Linked DNA regions of Homo sapiens. The protein of the gene in region 2 purifies or fractionates together with the protein of the main gene of each other region. This does not show direct contact. Each region holds a gene or a part of one and is shown on either strand. Other genes may lie near its edges. The genes, in order: DECR1 and ZFP36L1.

What was found.
Region 1: the proteins of ZFP36L1 (region 2) and DECR1 purify together in Homo sapiens (affinity purification with mass spectrometry; one large-scale study listed by BioGRID and IntAct). This does not show direct contact.

The regions. Positions count from the first base shown.
Region 1 is NC_000008.11:90,007,912-90,011,726, reverse strand, and holds part of DECR1 (2,4-dienoyl-CoA reductase [(3E)-enoyl-CoA-producing], mitochondrial isoform 1 precursor), read right to left. Parts: intron 1-3,815. UniProt on the Homo sapiens protein: Auxiliary enzyme of beta-oxidation. It participates in the metabolism of unsaturated fatty enoyl-CoA esters having double bonds in both even- and odd-numbered positions in mitochondria.
Region 2 is NC_000014.9:68,790,747-68,794,661, forward strand, and holds the start of ZFP36L1 (mRNA decay activator protein ZFP36L1), read right to left. Parts: upstream 2,193-3,915; coding exon 2,136-2,192; intron 1-2,135. UniProt on the Homo sapiens protein: Zinc-finger RNA-binding protein that destabilizes several cytoplasmic AU-rich element (ARE)-containing mRNA transcripts by promoting their poly(A) tail removal or deadenylation, and hence provide a mechanism for attenuating protein synthesis.

The DNA.
Region 1 (3,815 bases), on a different chromosome or scaffold from region 2:
TGAAATTAAGAAAACAATTCTGTTTATAATCATATTGAAAAGAATACTAATACATTTAATAAAAGAAGTACAAGACTTATAAATTGAAAACTATGAAACATCATTAAGAAATTAAAGACCTAAGTAAACAAAAAGACATTATATGTTCATGGACTGGAAAGCTTAATTTTGTTAAGAGGACAACACTTCCTAAATTGATATACAGATTCAACAAAATCCCTATCAAAATCCTAATCAGCTTTTTGTGAACGTCGACAAGCTTATCCTAAAATTGTTTTGAAAATGCAAGAGACTCAAAATAGCCAAAGAGATTCATTAAAGAATTGTTTGTAATAGAAAGACTACAAAACAATCTATGTGTGTTTCCTTAGGGGACATAGCCAATGAATTAGAGCACATCTATATTACAAAATACAGTTATATGGATCTATTATCTACCAAAAGAAGGAGCTGGAATGTATATGCTGACTGTAAACATTGCTATAGATGTATTATTTTTTAATTATTCAATAAGTATTTGTTGGATACCAACAATGTGAGACACTATGTGTTAAGTGTAAAACTCAAGGTAGAGAAATACATGTAACAGGCTCCCCTTCATGTGGTTTTTTAAAATGAGGATATCTTCATACATATGTTGACATATGCACAAAAACTGTCAGAAGTATCCACAAGAACCTATTCATAGTAATAACCATAGTAATAATAACCTTATTACACTGTCACTGCATATCCTTTTATATTGCTTGAATGTTCAACATGTTCATAAATTTTTTTTCTTTAACAATAGCTAACAGAAAACTGAATCATATAGGCAAGCACACAATACAAGAAGTACGTAGAGGAAAACAGAGCAAGAAAAAAAATGGCCTAGAATCAATTTCATGATAAGGACATATACCTTACTTGAAGCATAACTACTCTATATTAAACACTAAAGTGTGAGCTATATTTATAAAGATAATGAAATATTTCCACATCTATTTTCTTGGAGCTTCTACGTATCTGTTGGTTCAGGTTGAATCAATATTTTTTAGATCAAATTTACTCCAACTGGAATTCACATAAGAGTTTTGCAGACTGGGCCCTAACTGCCATATTAAACTATCAGCGTGGTAAACACTGGACAACCATATTTTTCAAAGGATGAGTTTCAAAAGTGTACATCTTTGCATTCCCAAAACACCTTATGTACTCCCTGAATACAGGAAGCCTTCCATAACTACTTCCCAATTTATTTTGTCCGATTGCTAGAAGGCCATGCGTGCATTCTTTCCAATGGCCACACCACTGCCACTTCAGCACAGTGTATGTGGTCCTTAGCTGGAGGTATCTGGTAATACAAGGGATAGTTTGGTGGGATGTTCTACTGGATGTTCCAGTGCAGAAAAGGACAGCCTTGCAGAATGAAGAACTGTCTCACCCCAAATGCCAACAGTTGCCCTGCAGACATTAAAATAACTGAGTACCACACCAAAAGCTTGCCACAGGCCTCGTTAACTCATGCTCCATGACTGTGTAGATTGCTTAAGCACATCTGCCTGCTCCTTAACTTATAGCAGGGCACTGAACAGAGGCCACTGATATTCTCAGCTTCCGCAGAGCACAGATCTTGTTGCCACAGCAACCTGAAGGTAAGGCTAAACAAATATAAAAGAAACTGCCCAGCTGGACTCCAAGCTCCAATGGCTAAGCTGAATTATGCAGTTGCCAGGAGCAAGACAGAAATTACATTTTTGAGGAATGATACATTTTGTATCAGTGAACATGAGTCCTTGAAAATGTCGGTGCTCTATGCCATAGGGTGTACATCTCATTTTATTACAGTGGTTATCTGTCTGCAGTTAGATGCAGACTGAACAGATGCTTCTCCAATACAACAAAATAAAAAGAGATGAAATCACAGACCTAAGAGGCAATTTGAAATTTTCAGCTAGGGTCTTCACTCCTGCCTGCCTCTGATTTGAGTCATCTCTTATTGATCCCCTATCATGTTAACCAAAACTATAATGACAATCTTTTTTAAACCAAAAATTAGAATCTCTGCTCTTGCAAAGAGTTTGTTTTGGGAATTTGCTTACATAAAAAAGTATTAGGGATAAACATGACATTATGATGGATATAGAGTTTATTCATTTATTCATTTTAAGCAAGTGTTTATTGAGCATATATTAAGCCCCAGGCACTGTTCTAGGCATGGCAGTACGGCAGTAAAAAAAAAAAACAGACACAATATTCTATTCTCAGCAAGATTATCCTTGGGGGAATGAGGGATAAAGAAATTAAGTTAAATATGTAGTATATTAAAAGTTGATATGTAGTGTGGGGAAAAAATAAGGCAGAGAATAGGGATAGAGCATTGCTACTTTAAATAGAGTCATCAGCAAAGGCCTCATTGAGAAGGTGACATTGGAGCAAAGACGTGAAGGAGAAGAATGAATCACAGGGTTTTAGGCAAAAGGGATTGGGAGCAAAGGCCCTAAGCAGGGGGCATGCTTATGGATGGGGTAACAGTCAGGAAGCCAGTGTGGCTGGAGAAGAAGGAAGGAGGGAGACAGGGGCAGGAGAAGAGGTCAGTGAGGTAAAGGGGACTGGACCATGCAGGCTGAGTCAGCCACTACGGAGACTTAGGCTTTTACTCTGAGGCAAGTGGGAAACATCTTCTAAGTTTTAAGGAGAGAATGGACATGATCTGCCTTAAGTTTTAAGGGGATTGTTCTGGCTGCCATGGAGTGTAGAGGGCAAGGTTGGAAGCAGGGAAACTATTAGGACACTTGTATAACAAGCCAGGCAAGAGATGGTGATGCTTAGCCCAGGATGCTATCATGTGAACTGGTGGGAAGTTAGCAAATAAAACTACTTGCAAGAGCAAAGGTCCCAAAAAATGAGGACGTAATGAGTCACCACTGTACCTAATATCGCCTGGTCCAATTATTTCTTCTTTTTCTTAATGTTTTATTAATACATAACATTTTAACCTATTTATGGGGTACATGTGATATTTTATTCCATGCATAGAATGTGTAATGATCAAGTCAGGATATTTAAGATATCCACTAGATCCATGATTTCTTCTTGCCTCTTGCCCAACAACATGAGCTTGGACTTTTGTTCTTGATCTATTTCATCACATTTTTGCCTGTTTCATTAACAGCATATAAACAGGTCTCCTGTTTACTGAAAAGAACTGAGAGAGATTTTTCTACCTCTCTCATCTTTACCTCAATATCCCTGTTACATCTGCACTGCCTTTGTGTTCTAGAAAAATTAAGATTTAAATGTGAGCCAGAAAAAAGGAAATGGAGACTCATCAGACAGAAGTCATTAAGTGTACATGAGAGATACCGAGGGCAGTAGAAATTAAGAGAAGACAACATATTCCACACACATTTAACATGTAAATTAGCCTGAACCCAGAACCCAACCAGCCAGACCTGGCAAGTAAGGTGAGAGCTGTGGAAGGTAACTGAGTTCTAGTTTTAAGTGGCTGCATGCAGAGTGATGCTCTGACTGAAATGACTGGGTTGACATGAGAAGACCAAGTTGGAGCATTGAGGATAATGAGTTCTGCATCAGAAATGCTGCACTTGGGATGCTTCTGGAATAGTCAGGTAGAGATATCTAAGCTGCAGTAGGAAATATGGTTTTGAAGCATGAAGAATAAATTAGGGCTAAAGGTAAATGGCAACATCATTTCATCATTCCAGCAATTATGAAAGCCTACAGTTCTATCACTGCTTTTATGTTACAATGCAGTGTGAGGGTTTCCCAGACTGGAAGGGATAAAAGTGCAGTTGACCTTGTATTCTAGACTT
Region 2 (3,915 bases):
ACCCCCATGTCCTCTGTCCCCAAAGCTACCACTTTAAAGTTCAACTTTTTTACTAGTCAAATAGATTCTTCAACTCAAAATATCTCACACAACCCAGACCTCTCTAGATTACCGCACCCCGCCCCCGCCACCGCCCGCGACAAAAACAGGTAAACCTCAGAAAGGAGTCTATCATAGGCTACGTTAGGTCCCCTTCCAATCAGTCTCTGCTTAATTGATACCCCCTCCTTCAAGACCTGGCCTAAGACTCTCAACTTCCTCCTTCAGAAGTGTTCCCTTCCTTTGGCAACAGGTTTTCAGACTGCCTTTGCTTTTTCTTGTGGGGAGGAGATTGGGGGCCTGGTCTGAGGTTGGGGGAGACAGGGATGTGATTCCTGAAAATAAAACTCTTTGCCCTAAGTTCCCGGAAGAGATATTTTCTACAATAATCTCTCTCACCATTTCCACTCAGCCCTAGCCCACCCCGCCCCCTTCACTGAGAAGATGCCTTTGCAATTAGTCTTTTGGCTGCAAGAGCAAGCTTGGATAAGAGCTCCAGTGTTTAATCTTTAACGCAAAGCTGCAGATGGAAAGGAAAAGGAAAGCACCAACCCCCCTACCCACCTCCTAGTCAATAGCGGATTGGGGGTGGTGGGGATGGGGGCAGAGCCACCAATGGCAGGTTTCTGTTCCAATAGGACCCTGGTCACCTGCCCAAATTGTACCCAAGATTTGGAAATGGTGCAGGTCAGGGACCTAGGAGTTAGTTCCCAGCCCATGTGGGTGTCATTGTGCAAATTCTAATGTTGGTCCCTTAGGATCAGCAGGGGGGGACCGGGAATCTGTAACTGCAACCACCCCACCGAGAGGATTACAGGAACCCAGTCGAGAGCTGGTTCCCAACAATGAGGTTCATTTAAAAAGTCGTGAGGGGGGAGGGGGGCCAAAGAAAGAAATAGATCAAAGAGCGGGAGAGTCGAGAAAAGAAGGAAGAAATGTTGGGGAGCGCTGGCAGCCGGGCTGGCAAGTGGAGTTTGGGAATGTGCAGGGAGGGAAGGAAGCTGAAAAATTCAAACTTTTTAAATGCTACTCTTCAGCTCCTCGGCGTCCCTGCACCCCAACCCTGCAGCCCTGGGGCGTTGGCAGCTGCACCAACAGGAGCAGCAAGCTGGGAAAACAGAGCAACATGACCCGACGTGTTAAGAGAAGGCAAAACACTTCAGCAATTAAAAAGTAGCCCAGCAGCTTCACCCTTTCAAATTGGGAGGGGGAGGTTGGAAAGAAATTTAACAACATCCATAGACTTTTGCTATGTACATTTAAACCGCAGTCCTGGAACATTCCGAGTTTAAAACTTGCTTTTTCAACACTGGCTGACAAGCAACATGTTTTAAGGAGCCCCCCATTAAATCCTTACTCGCGGGACTCTCGAGTTCAAGCCAGCATTTTGTCGCCACCTCCCCCCCCAACCCCGCCCGCAATCGATGAGCCGCAATGCCTCGGCAACACAGGTAAGCGGGTCAACCTGAATGCCTCTTTCACCCCAAAGTTTGCTGCACGATCGGCTATCGCGGGAAGAAGCCCAACGGAGCTAGGGCGGACTCAAGCCCCACTGCAAACTTGTTCTGCAACATCTTTTTGAATCACAACTTGGCCTTTCTTCCTCGCATATCCCCAGCTCCCCCCAAAGAGTGGAGGAAAACATTGTCCCGAGACTCACTTCCCCGAGGGACCTCCCACTCCCAACCCCACGGGTGGGTAATGCCGCTGGACAGACCTAGGGCGCAGACTGGGAACCCGATCAGACCAGCAAACCTGGGATCCAGCAGCACGTTACGTAAAACAGGATCGCCCAAAACTTGTCCCAATCCCAGCCCTCCCCCCGAAGCCCCCGGGCTGCCCTGCCAGGCAAACTTCGCCCCTCAAAACCCTGGCCTCCAGATTCACATGTAATCCCCGCCAGCAACTGTTGAAACTCAAAGGGTGGGAAGGACGGGGCCAAATTCCTTCAAACTTGGGAGAAATGCCGGAGGAGAAAAGAATCATCTCGCTGCACCACTTTCCCCATTGCCTTCCAAGACCCAAACTTTTGGGGGTTCTTTCTTAAGGCAAAAGAAAAAGACTTTTTGAAAAGCAAATGCTCCGCCCCCCTTTACCTTGCATAAAACTTCGCTCAAGTCGAAGATGGTGGCAGACACGAGGGTGGTGGTCATCCTGTGCGTTCGCGCGAGCCAGGGGCGAGGATCTGGTGTGTCGCGAAGGTCCCGGTGCGGGGAAGGCGCAGCCTCTCCTGTCTGGAGTCCCACACGCCAGTTCCCGGCGCCCCTCGCCTTTCTGACTCCGGGCTGGGGCGCGCAAAGCCCAATTTATAAAGTTCAGATTTGGTGGGCCGGGGGGAGGAGGAGCTTTAAACTTATTTAAATGAGGAAGAGGAGGAAAAAGAAGTTGATTGACACTGGAGTTGAATCAGCCATGCGGTCAGGCGGGGAGGGGGGGCAGGGGGAGGAGAAGAAACTTTCAAAAGGAAGAAGGGGGAGGGGAGACGAGAAAAGAAGGCGGAAAAAAAAAACCCCACTGTGAGCCGCGCACAACTTTTTTTTTTTTTTCTTTAAGAGGAAAAGTTTCAAGTCGGCTGACTTCCCTACCCGGCGCTTCAGGCGCCCCCTCTCCGGGGCCGCGCGGGCGCAGAGCGGGAGGGGCGCGCCCCCTCCTTTGTCAGCCTCAGAGCGCGGCTGTGACGTCACTCATTCCACTCCCTCCGGGGTTCTTGTTGTCATGTTGTTGTTTTTTGTTGGGCAGGAAGGCGGGCTCGACTTTCTCTTTTTGCCAGCGGGAGCTGAAGCCCGTCCTTAGCGCCCGGGCCGCGGTTTCCATCTTGAGCTGGCGGTCTCCTTGAAACTTCCCCAAGTGTCTGCACAACTTACCTTTTCCCGACTTCTCTTCGACACTCGGCTCCCTTCGGCAAACCGGGCAGGCCGAGGACATTAGAAATTTGGGACGCACAGAATGTTCAAGCCTAGGATTTTATGTTGCTGTTTTTTTTCCAGCGGGGCGTAGGGTGGGGCGCGCTGCTGGGGGGACTAGGGAAACTTTTTCCCCAGGAGGACATGGTCTGGCGGGGGCGAGCGCGGCACAATTTAGTGCGCCGCACGCGTCGACACTCGCGCTCGCTTTGCAGCCGGCGCTCTCCGGGTGTGGGCGGGTGGGGGGCGCCGCAAAAAAAGACCACAACCCGGGACGATTGTTTGTTTTACCAGGCCTAGGCGTGCCGTTTCTTTTCACGCATCCAATCTTTAAACTTTTTAGTCAAGAAAACCCTAATCCTTCCTGAATGCCCCTTCCTCCCAGAAAAAGCCCACCGAGCAACTCACTACTTTCCACGCGCGCTCCGAATTCTGGGCGGCGCCACAACCCTCCCTCCTCCTCCATCCTCCCCACACACACCTCAAGACTCTAGAACAATGAAAAAAGGTTACTTTGGTAAGAATGAAGGTAAAGAGGTGGAGGGAGGCGGCACTTTTAACTTATTGTTGCTTCTCTCTCGCCCCCACCGGAGTGGAACATATGGCTTGTCACGCTGCGCCGTTTTGGCGGGAGGTGGAGAGGGGGACATGGGAGCCACGAAACCGAAGGGCCCGCAATGGAGCATGACTCCCTTGAAAATGATAAAATATATACTGTTAGGTTTGGATGCCGCCCACCCAAATAAAAAGTTAACGAGTCCCCCACCCGCCCCCTGCGCCTTGGCCCGACTGCTGGCGTGATGACCCAGGCGGAAGTCGCAGGGCTGCGCTTCTTTCCGATTTCCACGCGGGCTCCGCCGCCCCCCTCGGCCCTCGCACGTTTCTTCCCAGCACTCGAGGCCGCCGAGTCTGTTATGAAACCCGGTGCTGCGGAGTGGCTAAGATTGAGTTCCATTGCGATGTAATTAGGTCA